Linked DNA regions of Homo sapiens: region 2 is linked to region 1. A link means that fine-mapping ties the variant in region 1 to the expression of a gene that starts in the linked region. Tissue or cell type: whole blood. Region 1 holds a variant in brackets; the other region holds the start of a gene. All regions are shown on one strand. Distances are from middle to middle.

Region 1 (10,051 bases):
TATTTCCTCATTTGTGAAAAGGGGAAACTTCAGGGGGATCGGTTTTCTGAGAATTAAGGGAGAATCAGATATGTGACTTTCTCACATGTGTTACAAACACTCCTGCAGCCACAAACCACCACTGCAAAAGGCACTCTCATTGCCAAATTTACTAAGAAAAGGTGTGTAAGACTCCCAGGTTTTAATTTTGGAAGATTGGCATCAAGGGAGCAGGTGTGAGGGTTCATCCCCATCACCAGGGGCCCTGCATTTTGGAGTGAAGACCAGGCCCCAGCTCTTATACCAGCTCCAATTATCTAATTGTAATCAAAGTCCTATTAGAAAATGTGGAGAAACCAGAAAGTTTCAGGCCATTTATTTGTGGTGGAGGCCTCCCCATCACGGCTTATGGGCTCTTGTGTGAGAAGGCAGGGAATGTCAGTAGCCACTGAACCCCGTAGGGGTGAAATGTTCAAGGTAAATCGTGAAGTACCTGTGCTTCATAGGTTGTGTGGCCTACACAGTGTGAAGAAACACAGTTGGCATAATTAAAAGTGCAATAGACATAAACGGTCCAGGAATGTCTTACTCAATGACTGAATTTGGTGTCAGCCAGAATACATTAAAAATGGTCTCTATTTGTCGTTTTGCTTCTTTCCCAAACAGTTTTAAGAAGTTGAAAGAATTCTATAGTGGTCATCTATATTTTACTTGGTTTGCTTTATCAACCCCCCAATCCTTCTATCCATCAGTCCAGCTTGTTATAATTGATGCATTACAAAACATAAATTGCTGAGAAAGTATAGTAAATACTAATACTGAACTCTAGTTACTATGTATGCTGAAGTTTTAGGGTTCAGACGTATACTTACATAGTAACTAGAGTTCAATATTTGCTGTATTTTCTTGTGATGTAAGATCTAGATGAAGTGAAATAAATCTTAAGAGTATTATCTGATAAAAAAATAAATAGAAGGCCGGGCATGGTGTCTCATGCCTGCAATCCCAGCACTTTGGGAGGCTGAGGCGGGCAGATCACAAGGTCAGGAGATCGAGATCATCCTGGCTAACACGGTGAAACCCTGTCTCTACTAAAAATACAAAAAATTAGCCAGGCGTGGTGGCAGGCGGCTGAAGCAGGAAGAATGGTGTGAACCCGGGAGGCAGAGCATTCCAGCCTGGGCCACAGAGCGAGACTCCATCTCAAAAAAAAAGAGTATTATCTGATGAATTGACAAATACACCTGTTTAATACAACCTCCATCAGAAAAGGGAATGCTTATACACTGTTGGTGGGAATGTAAATAAGTACATCCTCTATGGAAAACAGTATGGAGATTTCTCAAAGAACTAAAAATAGAACTGCCATTCCATCCAGCAATCTCACTATTGAGTATCTACCCAAAGGAAAAGAAATCATACCAAAAAGATGCCTGCACTTGTATGTTTATCACAGCACCATTCACAATAGCAAAGATGTGGAGTCGATGCCCATCAATGGACAGATGATTGGATAAAGAAACTGTGGTATATATACATAATAGAATACTGTTCAGTCTTAAAATAGAATGAAATAATGTATTTTGCAGCATCATGGATGGAACTGGAGGCTGTTATTTTAAGTGAAACAGCTCCAAAACAGACAAATACCGCACGTTTTCACTTATAAGTGGGAGCTAAACAGTGTGTCCACATGGACATAGAAAGTGGAATGATAGACCATGGAGACTTGGAAGGGTGAGGGTAGGAGGGTGGGGGGCATGAGGGTAGGAGGGTGGGGGGTGGTGTGGATGATGAGAAATTACTTAACGGATGTAGTGGGTGTTGGATACACTAAAAGCCCTCACTTCACCATTGTGCAGTATATCCATGTAACAAAATTATGTTTGCACCTCATAAATTTAAACAACTAAAAAAAACCTCCATCAAGATACAGAACATTACCATCACCCCAGAAAGTTACCTTGAGCCCCTTCCCAGTCAATCCCTGTACCTGATCCCCCCAGAGGCAATCACATTCTACTATTTTCCACATATGTGAGTTTTGCCTGTTCCAGAACTTCACATATAAATCGACTCACACAGTATTTGTTTTTTATGCAAGTCTTTTTTTATTTGTCATAATGTGGGATTTATCTGTGTTGTGTCTATCAGTGTCTCGTTCCTTTTGGCTGCTGATTCCATGGTATGATTAGAATCTGATATGAATATTGATGGACACCCGGGCAGTTTCCAGTTTTTGGCTATTTGAGTAAAGCTGCTATGAACATTATTGCACAAGCCCTTTTGTGGACACGTTTTTAGTTCCTTGTATAAACAACTAGGAGTGGAATTACTGGGTCATTCATAGAATTTGGTATATGTTTAATTTTTAGAAACTGCCAGACATTTCCCCCAAATTGTTGAACCATTTATACTCCCACTAATAATGTATGAGAGCTCTGCCTGCTCCATATCCTCAATAGCATTTGTTGTCTGTATGTCCTTGTTTCTTTTTTTCAGTGGAGAGTTAATTAAAGAAAGCATTCATTTGCGTTTGCTAGGAAACACACCATCTTGACCTCTCTGTAGGCAGCCCTAATCTGTGCCACAACCCTGCGTGTGACTGTGGTACCAGCCCTAACGCAGTTCTGTCAGGGGCCCCACCACACACATAGGGGCCACACATAGGGGCCTGGCTTTCAGAGGACAGTTCCATTTTAAAAGGGAATGCAGGGGTCGGGCACGGTGGCTTACGCCTGTAATCCTAACACTTTGGGAGGCCAAGGTGGGTGGATCACTTGAGGTCAGGACCAGCCTGGCCAACATGTTGAAACCCCATCTCTACTAAAAATATAAAAAATTAGCCGGTTGTGGTGGCATGGACCTGTAATCCCAGCTACTGGGGGGCTGAGACACGAGAATCGCTTGAATCTGGGAGGCAGAGGTTGCAGTGAGCTGAGATCATGCTGCTGCACTCCAGCCTGGGCGACAGAGTGAGACTCCGAAAAAAAAAAAAAGGGAATGCAGGAAGAATTGATAGCATTTAATGAGCACCCATGGTGTCTGTACTAGGCCATTTACATAAATCTGTTTTACTCTCCACAAAAACTTTACAAGAGAGTCATTCTCACTTTAAAAATGAGGCAACCAAGGCTAAAAAAGGATTGATGGCTGCCAAGGTCACCTGTGGGCAGATGGTGACAGTTGGGATGTAAGCATAGATAGTCCTGACTCCACGGCCATAAGATTCACAGTTTACATTGGCTTGTACTGCTGAACCAAAGTTTCTAGGGAAAATCAGATGATTATCTTTTTAAATGGATCCTAAATACGAGTTGGCTTTGTATCATTCCAATAAGAAGCTCAAGTACAACCCAACTGAAAATGTGCCAGCCGCATGTTCTAACTTAGAAATGAAGTAACTGTGGTGCCTTTATCACCCTTGTCTTGGCAAGATCGTTTGGTTATAACTATGCCTTATGAGACAGAGTGAGGGTAAGGCAGTGTCAGATCGATCATTTGACTCTTCTTCACCTCGGAATTGTGAATTATGTTCACAGGTAAGTATACCTCCATCCTCTAGCCAGACTTAAACCCTCTAGAGAGCAGGGAACCATGATGCTGATGGTGACGGTGATGATGATGATGATAAAAATTGTAGACATCGTTAGTGCCAGGTACTGTGCTGAACGCTGTGTTTGAGCTATCTCATCATTTCTTACAGTCATCCAGTGGTAGGTACGCTGAACTTCACTTTACAGAAAAAGGCAATAGATTTGGAGCAATTAGGCAACTTGCCCAAAGTCACAGTGAGCAAGTGGCAGCATTGGGATTGGAACTTGGCCAGCCAAATTGCTAATGCCTGGGCTTTTAAGCACACCACCAGTGGCACATTGGTGCTGTGCTGCTAGCACAATGTGTGGATTCTTCTCTTACTAACCTAGGCCTAGCTGTTCAGCTCATTCAACAGTCCTCTCCGAGGCTTGGTCCTCTGTGCAGCAGCAGTGTGCTAAGCTGCCTCGTGCCCTTT[A/G]AAGAGTGAAAGTTGTGCTGGGGAGATAAGGCCCATGTAGACAAAACAATTAGAGATATCGGGCCATATAATGCAAGCACATGATGTGATAAAGGGAGACCGGGCTGGTGATACGTTGCATGGAAGCTGGTTAAACCTGAAGGAAGCCCTTATCTTGGTTGCTCTGCATTATATTAACAACTGTACAGCGGAGACATACATCCAGAGCTAGCACACAGCAAGTTAATTGGGGTACTTACGTAGTCCAGGCGATATAAATTGAAGATTGTACTGATAGATAGCCTCAGTACAGCAGATGGCACTTACATTGTCAGGCGTTGTGCCAAACGCCTTACACTTCCTTGCACTGAATCTTGACAAGGTGCGTGTGTGTATGTGTGCGTGTATATGTGTGTGTTTTCCTGTGTTCTTGTTCTGGGTTGTGGAGGGAGGTGCTGACTAGAAGGAGGTTATCGTTACCCTTTTAAAACAGATGATGAAATCTGAGTGTCAGATTTCTAATAAATTGCCCAAAGCCACATGGCTAATGCATGTTAGAGTGGGATTTGAACCCAGGTCTGCCTGCCTAAAAAGCTGAACATGCTCAGAGCTTACACAATATTGAAACATAATCATGTTTTAACCCTTTGAAGAGTGGTTTCACATCTGTGGGGCTAATTACACCTCTCTGTGACTGGCACGTATTTTGAGCTTAAGAAACACTTCCTGGGTAAAAAGAGCACCAGAGTGGTGCATTCCAAGAGGTGTCCTAGGAGCTTTAGGGTGCCAGTCATGTGTTTTACGTGTTCCACACCCCTCCCTTCAGTTGGAGCAGCTCTGTTTTTCTCTATTTTACGTTGTGGCATTTGGCCCACCAATTTTATTTGGAAATAAGCATTCTGTTGCTTAAAATGGTTTGAAAACAAATGATGTAGAAGATCAGATCACTCCATTCCTAGTCTGTACCAGACACCAGCGTTAACTGTGATTCAGTGCCTTTAATGACACGGAGTATTGAATACTTCTGTATGGCTGAGCTCTTGAATGGTGGCCGGCATTGCATTGTAATGGAGTAATTGGAATCCTGGGGTTTAAAAAGAGGCTGCCAGGTGTGGTAGTGATCATGGCGATTCCGGGTACATGGAAAATACGTGCCTTGAGACCTGTGTCTTGCTACATTACCTGCTTAGGACTTGGAGATGTATCTTTTCGGTCCTCGTTTCATTTGGAGTATATGCCATACATTCTCAGAGCAGTCCACTGTTGTGTGCTAGCAGGTGCTTGAAAACTAAAGGAAAAAAACAAGATCCCCTCAACCCAGAGTCACCCCATAGAGGATGATTGGAATGTTCAGTGCAGTTACCTGGGGCCACTGGAAATGATATTGTAGGGCAGAAAGGGCAGGTCCCTTTAGGGGCATTAAGTTATAAATATAGGGCTGGTTCAGGAACTGAATGTGAAAGTATGCGTTTGTGACTTTGACCCACCTCCAAGTTTACGGCTGCATGCCTCAGGCATTGAGTGACAAGGAAGAGCCAGAGGCTCTAAGGTTGGATCAAATACAGTCCAGTGTTCTGATTTGCCTGAGCCTCTCCCAGTTTTGGCATTGAAAGTCCCATGTCATAGGAAACCCCTCCATCCTGGGCAAACTGGGATGGTTGGCCACCCTACATGGCCCTGGAGCTCATGCCCTCACTGCTGCTCAGCTCAACTGTGGCAGCAGCCCTTGAGCTGCTTCCTTGTGCTATCCCAGCCCTCCACAGTGCCACTAGAGCCACTAGAGCCCTTTTGGAAACAGATCTGACCTTCTTAAGAACGAAAGAAAGTCCTTGGCAATGGTATTTGCTGTGCGTTTATAGCCATGTCACGTGAGCCCTATGTTGTAGCTACTCTGGACATGCCATTTTTTGGCACCCACAAATTAATGCCAACTTATAGTTATACCAAACCTCTGTCCTGCCTTACTGGACACCAGAGCATGCCACAAACCTCCATGGCCTTGACAGGGAGAAAGGGAACAAGTACCTTGATAGGATCTATTAACGGAGGAATAATTTACTGTGTTTCTTCTTTGTTGTTGTTGTCATTTGTTTGTTTTTTTTTTGAGACAGAGTCTGGCTCTATTGCCCAGGCTGGGGTACAGTGGCGAGATCTCAGTTCACTGCAACCTCCACTTCCTGGGTTCTAGTGATTCTCTTGCCTCAGCCTCCCAAGTAACTGGGATTACAGGGCTACGCCACCATGCCCGGCAAATTTTTGTATTATTAGTAGAGACAGGGTTTCACCATGTTGACCAGGCTGGTCTCAAACTCCAGACCTCAAGTAATCTGCCCGCCTTGGCCTCCCAAAGTGCTGGGAATACAAGCATGAGCCACCACACCCAGCCTGTGTGTTTCTATATGTTCACATACAACATAGTCCATGTTTCACGTAAGCATCACAACCGCTGGGAGATGTCAGCATTATGAATCCTGTTCTACAGGTGAGGTGACATGCTCAGAGAGCCCTGTGATGTGCCCACACCACACAGGTAGTGAAGCTGCTGAGCTGGAATTCAAAATGAGGCCTGCCTACCTGTCTAAGGTCCAGTGCCTAACCACTGCTCTGGCATGGGCACGTAACCATGCGTGGGCGTTACGAGAGGGCCCGTCTCAGGATTGCCGAGTCACAGTGCTAGGCCTGCCTCAGATTCCGGACTTGGAAGGAATGCAGTCATTGGCTATGGTGGTTGTGGCTTCCTATGTGTGTGGAGGAGGGCTGCAGGGAGGAGGGGTGTCAGGGAATGTGTGTTCCAGAGGAGTCCTGTAAGCAAAGCAAGAGAGGACCTCCTTCCTGGGAACAGGTTCATCAGCAATACTTTATTATTTGTGTTTTCCCTTCAGTCCATCAGAAAATCCTGCACACCACCCGTTCTTGGTGGAGCTGTGGCCTCTGAGTCCAGCTGGGCTGGCCTCGGATGATGACCCACCAGGGGCAGCCTCGCCACCTCGGTCCCCTGTGGTCACTGATTCAGCGGATCGCGTGTATCCTGGACTTGAGAGTGCTGATGAGGCATTTCATCTTTGATATCCCTTTCATCCCTCATGACAGCCACCACGTTGTGTTTCCTAGAATTTGGCTGAGTTCCCACTACCAGGGAAGGCTCAGAGCTGGAGTGTCTGGAAAAGCCACCCATGGCCATGAGGCAGGCAGGCTAACCCCAGATGAGGGCGATGTTGCTGTAGCTAGCCCGCAGCTGTAGCTAGTGGTGGGGCCACCTCTAGTCACTGGGCAGGAAATGGAAAATTAGTGCCCCTAAGGAGGAATGCTGCCGTCACTGGAGCCAATTCCAGTGACTTTTCTTGGACAGGTTTCTGCAATCCCTTCTGCTTTCGTTGGCCTGGAAGAGTCAAGTGAGGCTGTGGGACAGGGTCTGCCTAGAGCCCGGAGAGAGAGTACCTAGTACTTACTGAGTGTGTCCTGAGTTCTTGGTCCTGCACCACACTTGTGTGTCTAATTTTTCCCCTCACAGCAACCCAATGAGATGCAATGTTCCCATTTTAGAGATGAAGCAGCTGAGGCTCAGAGGCTCAGGAACTTGCCTCTGCTAAATAGTGGCCGGGGTTCTGGAGCAGGTGATGTGGGCTCCAGAGCCAGTCTCCGTGTGTCACATCGCCTGACACACTTCTGGTTGTGTGGTCTCTGGTGGATGATGTCTACCGTTTTCCCTCTTGGGACCCTAGGGACTGTGGGTGGTGTTCTCAGGGAGCTGGTCAGATGTGACTTTTCTCAGGGCCTAAGTGCTGGAGGTGCTGAGTGCACCTGGGTGTAAAACAAACATTCTTGGGTTATTGAGTCAGAGCATCTCCCTGACCTCTGACCCATTCCGCTTCACTTCAGTGCTGTTCTCCCACCAGGAAAGGGGTTGAGTGTTGACAAACATGCCAATAAGTGAACCCCCCAGGAAATTGCCTTGTATCCTTGTATCCTTTGAGAAGGTTGTGGCAGGGCAGCAGAAGACTGGCGGTGCTGCTCGCAGTTGGGGCAGTCACCTGCGGATGCGCCTTGCCTGCTCCGCCAGCCCCTGCCCTGCTGCAGGTTCCGCGCCTCTTCAGCACTTTCATTCTGTGCCACACAATGGGGCCCTTCCCCATAGTCGGTGGTATTATCACCCAGGATCTGGATGTTTCCTGTCTACACTGCTGTTTCCTGGAGGGTAGGAACTGCACCTTCCCAGTGACACATGACAGTCTTCACCCATCTGTGTCTGTGGCTCCTTTCTGGAGTCTCACTCATCCTCTTTCCTGCTCCCCCACAGCTTTTCTGTTGCTTCAGTGGCCTGACTCTTGTCGTACATACATGCTCTGGGGTCAGCATTCTCTTGCATTCTGATAAGCCTGAGATCCTTTGAGGGGGCACCTGCTTGCCTTATTCACCAGGCCTCAATGTGTTGGTCCTCATTCCACTCCATCACATGACCCCTCTGGTCTTGCTGCAGGACATGGCCCTCATAATATGCAAACATTAGAAAGTAAATTTAGTACTGCAATTGCAATATGCAAACATAATATGCAAACATTAGAAAGTAAATTTAATACCGTGCTTGCAATTTGGTGTTCTGGGGGTATGAGGAACAGGATGGAGGCATGCACCCCTGGCATGGGGCTTGCTGAAAGCACTGAGGAGGTAGTCGGCTCTCAGGAGGGGGTGAGCACATCGTTGGATGCGAAACTGTCTTATATTGTTGATTGAATTATAAAAGTAATGTATATGCGACAGAATACTACTTAGCCATAAAAAGGAACAAATTAATGGCATTCGTAGCAACCTGGATGGGATTGGAGACCATTATTCTAAGTGAAGTAACTCTGGAATGGAAAACCAAACATCATATGTTCTCACTCATAATTGGGAACTAAGCTATGAGGATGCAAAAGCATAAGAATAATACAATTGACTTTGGAGACTCAGAGGAAAGGATGGGAAGGGAGTGAGGGATTAAAAAAAAAACAGCCCTGTGAGTTTCCAGTTTTAATAAAGCTCTGAGAATTAAAAAAATAATAATGTAAAGGTGTATAGCATGAAATTAGACTATATGTAATGTCTGTAGAGGAGTGAATCCCACTGGCCGCCCCTTACCCACAGATATTCCTGGAGGGACTTGGAGTTTTAAGTCTCGGTTGGTTCCTGGAAGAATTTTGCCCAAAATTAATAGTGGCCCTTCCTTTCTCTGCAGAACACGGAGAGTTCCTGGCTCTGGATCTTGGAGGGACCAACTTCCGTGTGCTTTGGGTGAAAGTAACGGACAATGGGCTCCAGAAGGTGGAGATGGAGAATCAGATCTATGCCATCCCTGAGGACATCATGCGAGGCAGTGGCACCCAGGTATGACCCTTCTCTCAGGGCAGCCCCTGGTGACAAAAAACTTCCTTGGCATGTTCTTTCTGTACTTTCTCCAGCCGCTCCCAGCGTGTGGATAGGCAGTCACCCAAGACACTCATGGATGCCAGCACAGCTGTAAGGGCTCCCTCTCAGCCGGAGCTCAGGCTGTTCTGGTTGTATTTTATACCCAACATGTACTCAGTATTAAAAGGAGTGACTAGAGAAGAAGCATGAAATCCAAGTAAGACGCTGTTCAGTGTTGTCACATCTCGGGCCTCAGGGCTTGGAAGAGGTCAAGCCCTCTGATTCGTGGTCGGCTGTTCCCTCTCCCACACAAGGCTCCCTCCTGGGAAAGGAATTTCTGACCATGAGTAGAACACGCTGGGGAGATATTTTTAGACTCATTATTTGTCTTTGGGGTGGCCTTGAGGTAAACCTGCTTTCCTTGTTATCATGCTGGGGTTGGAGAAGGGAGGCTGCATCCCTAGGGCTGTGGGCATTTGAGCTTTACCGAAGTTGTCACGTGGCTCCAGTATAACGTCAGGAGGGACACAGAGGGTAGCGGCCCTTCCACTGCCACTCCTATGCCTGCACCAAGCTGAGGTATTAAAGAGATTGGGTCCTGTATTCAGGCACTCTAGCTGTGTGATTCTGGGCAAGTGATAGACCTCAGTTTATTCATCTGTAAAAAGGGATGATAGTGTACGGATTGTGGTGTAG
Region 2 (10,051 bases), 29 kb before region 1:
TCTGCTCACTGCAAGCTCCGCCTCCCGGGTTCACGCCATTCTCCGGCCTCAGCCTCCTGAGTAGCTGTGACTACAGGCGCCCACCACCATACCCGGCTATTTTTTCTGTATTTTTAGTAGAGATGGGGTTTCACCGTGTTAGCCAGGATGGTCTCGATCTCCTGATCTCATGATCCGCCCACCTCGGCCTCTCAAAGTGCTGGGATTACAGGCATGAGCCACTGTGCCTGGCCTATAACAATACTGATTCCAACCACCTCCCAGGATTACTGGGAACTTTGTAAGAGATAACATGTACTTAAAGTTCCTTATGATTATTATCCGGTTCACATGAAATGGGACCACAGAGGGGAGTGGAGAAGAGGCATTAAAACTAGTGTGTGAAGAAAGTATCATAGCTGACCCAACCCCACTGGCTTTGGTTCTACCTGCCTGGAGACAATACATTTTGTAGCACCAGGCTATTGAATTTCCATCCGATTCTAGGCAGCAGGCATCCTCCTCTTCATTTTCCTTCACCCACCCCAGCCAAATCCATCAGTTCCACCTCTGACTTCACAATACCTAAACCCATAACCTTCCTCCCTGCCCCACTCTCATCTTGGCTTAGGTCCTAGTCTTACCTTATAGCTTCTGCCTCTTTCTGCCTTTGGTCTCTGACCTCTTTCCCTCCCCATCCACATGGAGGGCAGTTATGGCCCTAAAAAAGCAAACGCGATTGTATAATTTCCTGCTTTGAGAATCTTGGGGCCAGGTGTGGTGCCTCATGTCTATAATCCCAGCACTTTGGGAAGCTGAGATGGGCGATCACTTGAGGTTAGGAGTTTGAGACCAGCCTGGCCAACATGTCAAAACCCTGTCTCTACTAAAAATATAAAAATTAGCTGGACATGGTGGTGAGTGCCTATAATTTCAGCTATTTGGGAGGCTGAGGCAGGAGAATCGCTTGAACCCAGGAGGCGGAGGTGGCAGTGAGCCGAGATTGTGCCACTGCACCCCAGCCTGGGCGATAGAGCAAGACCCTATCTAAAAAAAACAAAAAACAAACAACAAACAAACAAAGAATCTTTGTTAAATATCTAAGTCTATATATTTATGGTGTCTATATCTGAAGAGGGAAGCCCAGTTATGAGGCTGTTCCAGTCAGGTGAGAGATAACTGGGCATATGATCTAGGGTAGACAGAGAAATGGGAAAAGATTTGGGAAATAATATATAAAACTATAAACTCTATGTGTGTGTGTATTGTTACACAACATGTGAACAGTAGTCATCTCTAAGATTCTTCTATGAATTCATTCAATAAATGTTTATTGCATGTCTGCCATGCGTCAGGCACCATTTTAGGCACTGCAAACTTGAAGGAATGACAGACACAGACCCTGCTGTCTTTTAGCTTATCATCTATTGAGGAGAGGAAGAACATAGCGAAAATAAATAGGAAATCAACTAGGGCCAAGTGATAGTGACTTGGGGAACTATTTGAGATAAACTGGTCAAGGAAAGCCTGATGAGGTAGAAGGTGGGGACTTGACTCTGGAGGTGGGGGCTAAGACTCGGGACCAGACTCTAGATTAGAGTTCCAGATTTAACACCTAGAAGTCACTGCCCCTTTCCATGGCAATGACTCAACAACCCGTTACCAACCTTTTTCTAGAAATTTCTGTATAACCTGCCCCTTAATTTGCATGTTAACTAAAAGTGGGTAGAAATATGAGTGCAGAGCTGCCTCTGAGCTGCTACTCTGGGCACACGGCCTTATGGGGTAGCCCTGCTCTGCAAAGACCAGTGCCTCTGCTCCTGATGTACACTGCCACTTCAATATAAGCTGCTGTCTAATGCCACCTGCTTGCCCTTGAATTTTTTTTTTTTTTTGAAATGGAGTCTCTTTCTGTTGCCCAGGCTGGAGTGCAGTGGCGCGATCTCGGCTCACTGCAAGCTCCGCCTCCCGGGTTCACGCCATTCTCCTGCCTCAGCCTCCCGAGTAGCTGGGACTACAGGAGCCCGCCACCACGCCTAATTTTTTGTATTTTTTTTTTTTTTAGTAGAGATGGGGTTTCACCGTGTTAGCTAGGATGGTCTCGATCTCCTGACCTCGTGATCCGTCCACCTCAGCCTCCCAAAGTGCTGGGATTACAGGTGTGAGCCACCGCGCCCGGCATCCCTTGAATTCTTTACTGGGTGAAGCCAAAAATCTTCCCAGGCTAAGTCCAAATTTTGGGGCCTGCCTGCCCTGCATCATGAGGAGGTATCTGAGTGGAACGTCAATGAGGAGGAAGAATGAGTTGGAGACAGGCCTGGAGAAGAATATTCTAGATAGAAGGAAAAGGAAGAGCAAAGACCCTTGGGTGAGAAAGAGTTTGTATTTTTGAGGAAAGCATGCTAGTGTGAATGCCAAGCAGTATTCTGTGGGAAGATCTCAGGAGGTGTCTAAGGGCATGGAGATAAGTGGTCAGATGCACGGTCTGTTTTATAGGTGGAATTAACTGCTTGCTGATGGATTGACTGGCTGTGAGGGTGAGTGGCAAGAAGGAATCGAAGACGAGTTAGGGTGGATGGCGATGCCATTTGCTGAGACAACTGGGAAAGAAAAAGATTTGGGAAAAAAAGTTGAGTTCAGCTTTGGACATGTTAAGTGTGATATGCTAGTCACTTCAGTGGAGATGACAAATGGCAAGCTGGAGAAATAAGCCTGCAACTCCAGGAGAGGACCTCGCTGTAGATTTACTATGGTGAGTCATCAGCATGCATATGATATAACAGTCATGGGGCTAGGAAGTTAGTTTCTCCTCAGGGAGTTTGAAACTGTAACTAGTTCAGAGAAGAGGGTGGAGGGCAGCCCCGAATACCCCAGCATTTACCAATAGAGCAAACAGGGACTCAGGAGCCTGGGGAGTGAGGTTAGCCAGAAACCCTCAGAGTGGAGCACTGGTGCTCTTACTGAGAGAGGAAGGTGTGTCCAGATGGAGGATGTGATTAACTGTCCTCAACATCCCTGAGAGAAGGAGTAAGACAAGGGCAGGGAAGAGAAGAGAATGCAAGATTTGGCAACATGTAGGTCATTATGATGACTATGACAAAAGCAGTTTGAGCTCAATTCTGTGTGGAGTATAGGGAAGGAGGGTTGAGGACGTGCATTTAGAAGGGTACATAGTTCTCAAGAAGTTTTGCTGAGCACATCTGTAATCCCAGCTATTTGGGACGCTGAAGTGGGAGGACTGCTTGAGCCCAGGAGTTCAAGACCAGCCTGGGCAACATATCGAGTCCCTGCTTTAAAAAAAAAAAAAAGGAAGTTTTGCTGAGAGGCTAGATGGATTATGATTTTTGTTTATTTTTCCTGTTTATCCATATATTATTTTTCAACAATGAGTATTGATTACTTATATAATAATTTTAAGGCTGTACACATTGCAGACAGCACCCCACTGTTTGAAAAACTCCTCCTCAGTAGAACATGGCAGACCTTCATCTTCCTTCCCTGAACCTTTTCCAACCTTAGGCTTGCCATTCTCCACCAGTGCTAATGTCATGTCTCTTGAAATCTGTATTGAAGTCAGTATTTCATTCTTGCCAGTTTCCACTGTGTGTTTAAATTTGGAGTCTGGTGTCTAGCATTAGCTGGGGTTGGAGCTTCCACTCCTCTCAGCATTGGTAAGCCTCCTCACCCACCCCATCCCATGTCCAAGATCACCCAGTTACACACTTACCATCTACCCAGTTCATTCACATCATCAGTCCCAGAGCTGCAGAGATGCTCTTTTTCTACCTCCTACTTCTCTGGCTCTTAGAGAGGCAGCATGGGATAATGGGGCAAGCGAATAGGGCCTTAAAGTAGAGGGACAAGGGTTCTCTTCCCTATCTGCCACTTATTAGCTATGTGACCTCGTGTAAGTCTCTTTTCTTTTTGAGACAGGGTCTCCCTCTGTCACCTAGGCTGGAGTACAGTGGTATGATCATAGCTCACTGCAGCCTCGAACTCCTGGGCTCAAGCTATCCTTCCACCTTAGCCTTCTGAGCAGCAGGGACTACAGGCACATGCCACCATGTCCGGCTGATTTATTTATTTTTATTTGGGAAGATGGGGGTCTCACTATGTCGCCCAGGCTGGTCATGAACTCCTGGTCTCAAGCAACCCTCCAACCTTGGACTCCCAAAGTGCTGGGATTACAGGTGTGAGCCCTGGCCTTGCCTCAATTTCCTCATCTGTAAAACGGGGTTAGTGAAACTCACATCCTATCAGTGGTTTTGAGGATGGGCCGACTCTTGTATTGCCTGCTCTAGTACAATCAGCAGCTAAGGCGGCTCACTTTCCGGCCGTGCTACAATAGGTAAGAACTAGGATGCTTTAGACGTGTGACTGGGCAGTGGGAGCCCCTCACATGATCCCGAGATGCCAGACAGTGTCTCTCCGCACAGGGCGTGTGCTGGTCCAGAGGCCCGTTTTTCCAGTCGCCCCACACCCCGGGTCCGCGATCACGCTCCCCCCACCCATAGCCGAGCCTGACGCGGCGGTGGCTCATGCGCCTTTCCGTCCCAGCCTTTAGCCACGGACCACACGTCCCATCTCAGGCGCCCCGCCCCTCCCCCGCCCCCCGCCCCCGGCGCGCCTCCCCAGGCTGCCGGCTCCGGTGTCTGAGCGGCCGCGCCCGCGAGCCGTGAGCGATGATTGGCTGCGCCACGGCGGCGGGCGGTCCGTGGGCGCACACACCCTCCCCGCGCAGCCAATGGGCGTGCGCACGTCACTGATCCGGAGGCCCGCGGGCCGGCAGCCCCTCAATAAGCCACATTGTTGCATGAAACTCCGGCGCAGGAGTCCCGGGCTGCCGCTGGCAACATCGTGTCACCCAGCTAAGAAAATCCGCGGGCCCGAGCCACGCGCCTGTGAATCGGAGAGGTCCCACTGCCCGAGTGGAGCCGGGCTGAGATTCTTCTCAAGTTGAGCCTCAGTGATCCTGTGGCCGAAGTTAGCGCCTTGACGTGGGACAACCGGACACGTCGCCAGGAGAGAACTGAGGCGCCTTCTAGCAGTTGTGACGCCAAAATCACGTCTCCGGAGACCCGCGCCCTCCGCCAGCCGGGCGCACCCTCGCCGGTAGCCTTCTTTGTGCGCCGTCCGGACTCCCAGCTCCCGGCCCGGCAGCCGAGCCCCAGCACAAAGCAGTCGGACCGCGCCGCCCGCCTCCCCTCTCGCGTCTCCGCCTCGGTTTCCCAACTCTGCGCCGTCGGGCCGCGGCAGGATGATTGCCTCGCATCTGCTTGCCTACTTCTTCACGGAGCTCAACCATGACCAAGTGCAGAAGGTAAGTCAGCGCGGGCGGGGCGGCAGGCTGGGCTCTGGCAAAGTGGTCTGGCCTCCATCAGTCTCTTCCTCGACCCTGCGGGGACCCGCTTCCTCCCTACTCCGGGCCTGGGAGCGGAAAAAGTTTGGGCAGCCGGGACACTCCTGGGCGCCAGGAGCCACGTCCGCTAAGCACAGCCGGCGAGTGCGCGCGGGCGGGGAGCCGAGGTCGCGCTCCGCCGGGCGCCCTCCCTCCCTGAGCTCCGGCACGCGCTCACGCTCTCTCCCCCAGTCCCTTTTTCCCTGTTACTGGAGGGGCGGGTCACCCCGCAGGTAGTCAGGGATTGCTGCGCCCACGTGGGAGGGAGCCCCCTTCTGCAGCGCGAGTTCCGGCGAGAGCACGTGGAGAGAATCGTGGCTGCGGGAGGCTGCTCCGCTGCCGCGTGGGGCCGCCGGGGGCCGTCCGCGCTCGCGGACCGCGTGTAGGAGACGAGCGGTTCCCTTCTCCTTCCCCGCGGCCCTGCGGGGGTGGGCTCGAGGAGAAGCTGACCCGGGAAGGAGTAGGAAAGGGGCAGAGGAACTCCGCCCGCCGCGCCCCCTCCCCGGAACTGTGGCGCCCGGAACTGAGGCTCGGCGAGGGGCGTCCCCCATTAACCCCCGCCCCTCCAAATCAGCCTCGGGACCGCCCAGCCTCGTGTCCTCAGGATCTGCCTCTGAGTAAGGGGAGGACTTTGGTTGTTACTTTCTGGTTTGCCCTAAAAGTTACTCGGAGAGGCCAACGCGCCGCGTTCCTGGATTACTTGAGATTCTTGAGATTTATGTCCTTCCGAAAACGAGCTTTTTTTTCCTTAAGCCTCGACCTGTCTGTTCCCACCTGGCTCCGCAGCTCCCTATGGCTGAGCGCTCACCGCGGCCGGGTCATTTACATAAGAAAGAGCCTCAGGCCAAGCCGGGAAGCTCTCATTCCCCGCCTCGGGGTATGGGGGTGGGGATGGGGCCGGGGCCGGGGACGGGCAGGGCCAGGGGCGCGCTCAGAATTGAGTTTCTGAAATGCCCGGGATTAGGGGATTGGCTCCTGGCCCGGGCCTGGGCTACGATTTGAGGTAGGGGACAAGTTGGGAGGGGATTAGCTGGAGGGAGGTTGTTTTAAGAGCTGTGAGGCAACGGAGCGTTGCTCAGTTACATACTTGGAATTTCAATATCTGATGGGAACACATTTTTGGGAAAATGTCTTGCCATTACCGTTCTGTGCGACAACCTGCTCATATTCCCATTCTGGCGGTCCCGAGGGCATAGGAGGCATATTAATGTAGTGATGGCGCGTGAACCTCCAAGAAAAGCAGAAGTTACCCAGCCTCAAGTCTGGAGGAGCGAGCAGAGGCGGTTGATTTACTTGGGTTTTACTGTTTGTAAATGGCTGTTATTCTCTAATTCCTGGGATGTGGCTCTGCACCTTGATTCAGTTTACTTAAAAACGTGCCTTTGATTTGAGCTGGCAGGATCTTGGTAACTTCTCAACTTCTAAGAACTCTTGGGGAAGGCTATCATCTCTTGGCAAGTCCTAAAATACACAGTGGAGCGTCATTAATCTCAGGGAGTTCTCCTTTGGGTATTACCCCAGGACATTTGAATCCTTGCATAAATTTACTCTTCCTCAATCCAGAGGAGGGCACCAGGGTTGGAACCCCGTTGGAGTTATACCACTCTCAATCTTGGAATGGGGGTCATCTCTCTTCCCCCAGAGTGGAACGGGAATTAACCAGGGTATCTGGAAATGAGTTGTAATCTCTGTCTTGTGGTTTATTAACCATAGCACCCTGAGCCTCTTTGGACAGCCCGTTTCTCTTTGTGAAATGCAATAATAACAGTAGGCTTGTCCACTTTATGGAGTTGCGATTATTAAGCGCTGCAGTGTGCAACTGTCATTCCTGTAGGTTTTCTCTACCCTTGCAGCCACCTGTCAGTTTGAGAAGTGTCCCTGAAGACCCTTGGGTGTATTTCCTCTAAACTACCAATAGGGGCAGAATTGAATCAGGCCTTTAACTCAGTAATTGTCAGAACCTGGGATTTGACTCCCAGCTTAGGTGAGCGAAGCTGTTTGATTCCAGTGGCAGTTACATAGAAAGCAGAGACTCAGAGTATCTTGGAACCATCTTTCTGAGCTGCCATTGGAAAGAAGAATTAAGAGAGAAGAATGAAAATTTAGTATAACTTTAGAGTCTTTTGAAAAGACCTTTTGATTTGGACCCTTCTGAAATCCCCTTGTGATAAGATAATCTTACATATTCTGGGTTGTAGTCTGAGGACGTGGAAGGCTTGGGTTCACCTGCCCAACGAGGTCACTTGTCGTCTCCTGATGGACAAGCCCAGTGTTTTGGGGCATTAGAGATGAGAATCAGGGTTATTTCCTCACTTTTGCCAATTGGAACTCAGGAGCGACTGCAGAGCACCTACTGTGTACCTGGCACTGTTCTAAGCTCTTAGGTATGTCAGCTTATTAACATTCAAATCAGCCCCATGAGGTGAAGACTGATTGTTATTAGCATCCCTGTTTAACTGAGGCCCAGGGGTAACTTGCCCAAGGTCTCCAGCTTTTCTGTACGAGCTGGGAATCGAAGCCATGCATTTGGCTTTAGAGCACCATGCTCTTGAGCACATACTTGCCTGTCTCTGGGGAATGTGAGCGGGCTCCTGGCCCGGGCCTCTGCCCACTCCTGGCTGCTGGTAGCACCCCCACCCATCATGACCACAGATGGAACTAGCTCTTCTGTTGGTTTGATCAGTGGCACCAGTACCCTCTGGCTACTCCAGCTGAGAGTCCTGGATTCATTTTCATCAACTCTCTAACTCTGTCAACTGGTCTCTTGGTTACTTTGGAGGCCTGCTAAGGGTGTCCCTAAAACTCTTTCTGGAGCCAGACTGGATCATTTCAGGAGCTCTCTACAGCTCTTAATTGCCTCCCGCTTCTACCCCCCAGCTTAGCCTCATCTTCCTCTCCATCCTTTCATTCCTCTGTCCTGCCTGTTCACACTAGGTCCTTTTGCCCTTGTCTTTTTTTTTTTTTTTTTTTTTTGAGACACAGTTTCACTCTGTCACCAGGCTGGAGTGCAGTGGCGCTATCTCTGCTTAGTGCAACCTCTGCCTCCCAGGTTCAAGCGATTCTCCTGCCTCAGCCTCCTGAGTAGTTGGGATTACAGGCGTGCGCCACCATGCCCAGCTATTTTTTGTATTTTTAGTAGAGACAGGGTTTCACCATGTTGGCCAGGATGGTCTCGATCTCCTTACCTTGTGATCCACCTGCCTCAGCCTCCCGTAGTGTTGGGATTACAGGCGTGAGCCACCGCACGAGGCCTGCCCTTGCCATTTTTGTGGCCCTGAACTCTGCTTGGCTTCTTTCCACTTAACCCCTTCCAGCTCAAATGCAGTTTACTGTCTTAATTTTCTTTCTGCTTCCTTCTCCCCCTCCTGTGTGCCAACATTAGTGTGTTTGAACCTTGCATGACATTTGTTTCATTCCACCATCTGTTAGAGTTGATGGTTTTCAGTTTGGGTTCCTTCCTCAGGGCAGGGAGAATCTTGGCTGTTAGGTTTGTCGCTGCAGTTCCTGGCCACTGGTGAGGTGCTCAGTGAGTACAAGAGTAAAGGAGGAGACCTTTCTGGAGAAAGAAGCTAAACCAGGGCTGCAGGAAGTGGAGGAGCTGGGCAGGGCCAGCTAGTCTTAGGCTAAAGGGATGGTATATGGGTGGACACTTGGAGGGGTAGTTCGCAGTTATCTCTTCATCCAAAGCATGACCTGAGGCCAAAGCATGACCTGAGGCCGGTCCTGAGGAGGGAGAGAGAAAGGGAGGAGAGTTTCCTGTCCTTCAGCAATCAAGACTGTGTGTCCTGCCTATGGAGAGATGGAAGATTCTTTCTATTTTTTTTTTTTTTTTTTTGAGACGGAGTCTCGCTCTGTCGCCCAGGCTGGAGTGCAGTGGCGCAATCTCAGCTCACTGCAAACTCCACCTCCCGGGTTCACGCCATTCTCCTGCCTCAGCCTCCCGAGTAGCTGGGACTACAGGCGCCTGCCACCATGCCCGGGTATTTTTTTGTATTTTTAGTAGAGACGAGGTTTCACCGTGTTATCCAGGATGGTCTCAATCTCCTGACCTCGTGATCTGCCTGACTCCGCCTCCCAAAGTGGTGGGATTACAGGAGTGAGCCACCGCGCCTGGCTGATTCTTTCTATTGATTGAGATAAGTTAGTATACAAGATGCAGGATTTTGTCATTTAAGAATGGAGAATCAGGGTTAACCATAGAGATAAAATGAAGTATATACTCCTTTCTCTGACCATTGACCAAATTGTTTTAATACGCATAGACTGGTGACATTTGCACTGGAATCCTGTAATAGACATAGCTCATGTAGATTCCTTGTTGTATGAGCAAGGGGTGACCTTCAATGCTGGGCTTGAGAGGAATATCTTGGAAGCGAAAAGATTGAACAGAGACCCCAAGAGTCAAGAAAGCCAAGAATTTTAATGTTTTTTTAAGAACCTACAGTGAGTGCAAGGCCCTCTGAGTGTGATATGGGAGACAGAAACCCAGATACTTTTCAGTTGTCTAGAGAGATATGGCTGCTAGGTCAAAAGAGTGAATTACCATGGGTGGGGCTGGAGTTAGAGCCTCAAGGAACCTTGGCACATTTTGGACACCTACCACGTGCCATTAGTCCGCACGTATGGGATTAGAGTATCAAGAGTAAATTGCTGATTGAAACCTTAATAATATTA

Evidence for each region. PIP is the estimated chance that this variant, and not a neighbour inherited with it, causes the effect.
Region 2: it holds the start of HK2, and the variant in region 1 is fine-mapped to the expression of HK2 in whole blood (INTERVAL, PIP 0.95).

Annotation. Positions count from the first base shown.
Region 1 is chr2:74,858,451-74,868,501 of GRCh38, forward strand. It overlaps HK2 (hexokinase 2), which reads left to right. Exons shown (of 18, transcript NM_000189.5): 3 at 9,186-9,334. Among named protein-coding and RNA genes, the nearest start is that of HK2, 29 kb to the left of the region's middle. The variant A/G (reference allele first, on the strand shown) is at 3,992.
Region 2 is chr2:74,829,345-74,839,395 of GRCh38, forward strand. HK2 (hexokinase 2) reads left to right here and starts at 4,783. Exons shown (of 18, transcript NM_000189.5): 1 at 4,783-5,299. The coding sequence starts at 5,237. HK2-DT (HK2 divergent transcript) reads right to left here and starts at 4,643. Exons shown (of 1, transcript NR_185897.1): 1 at 3,311-4,643. RefSeq lists silencers at 4,275-4,344, 4,525-4,754, 5,675-5,924, 7,863-8,020 and enhancers at 5,501-6,377, 6,155-6,224, 7,537-8,052.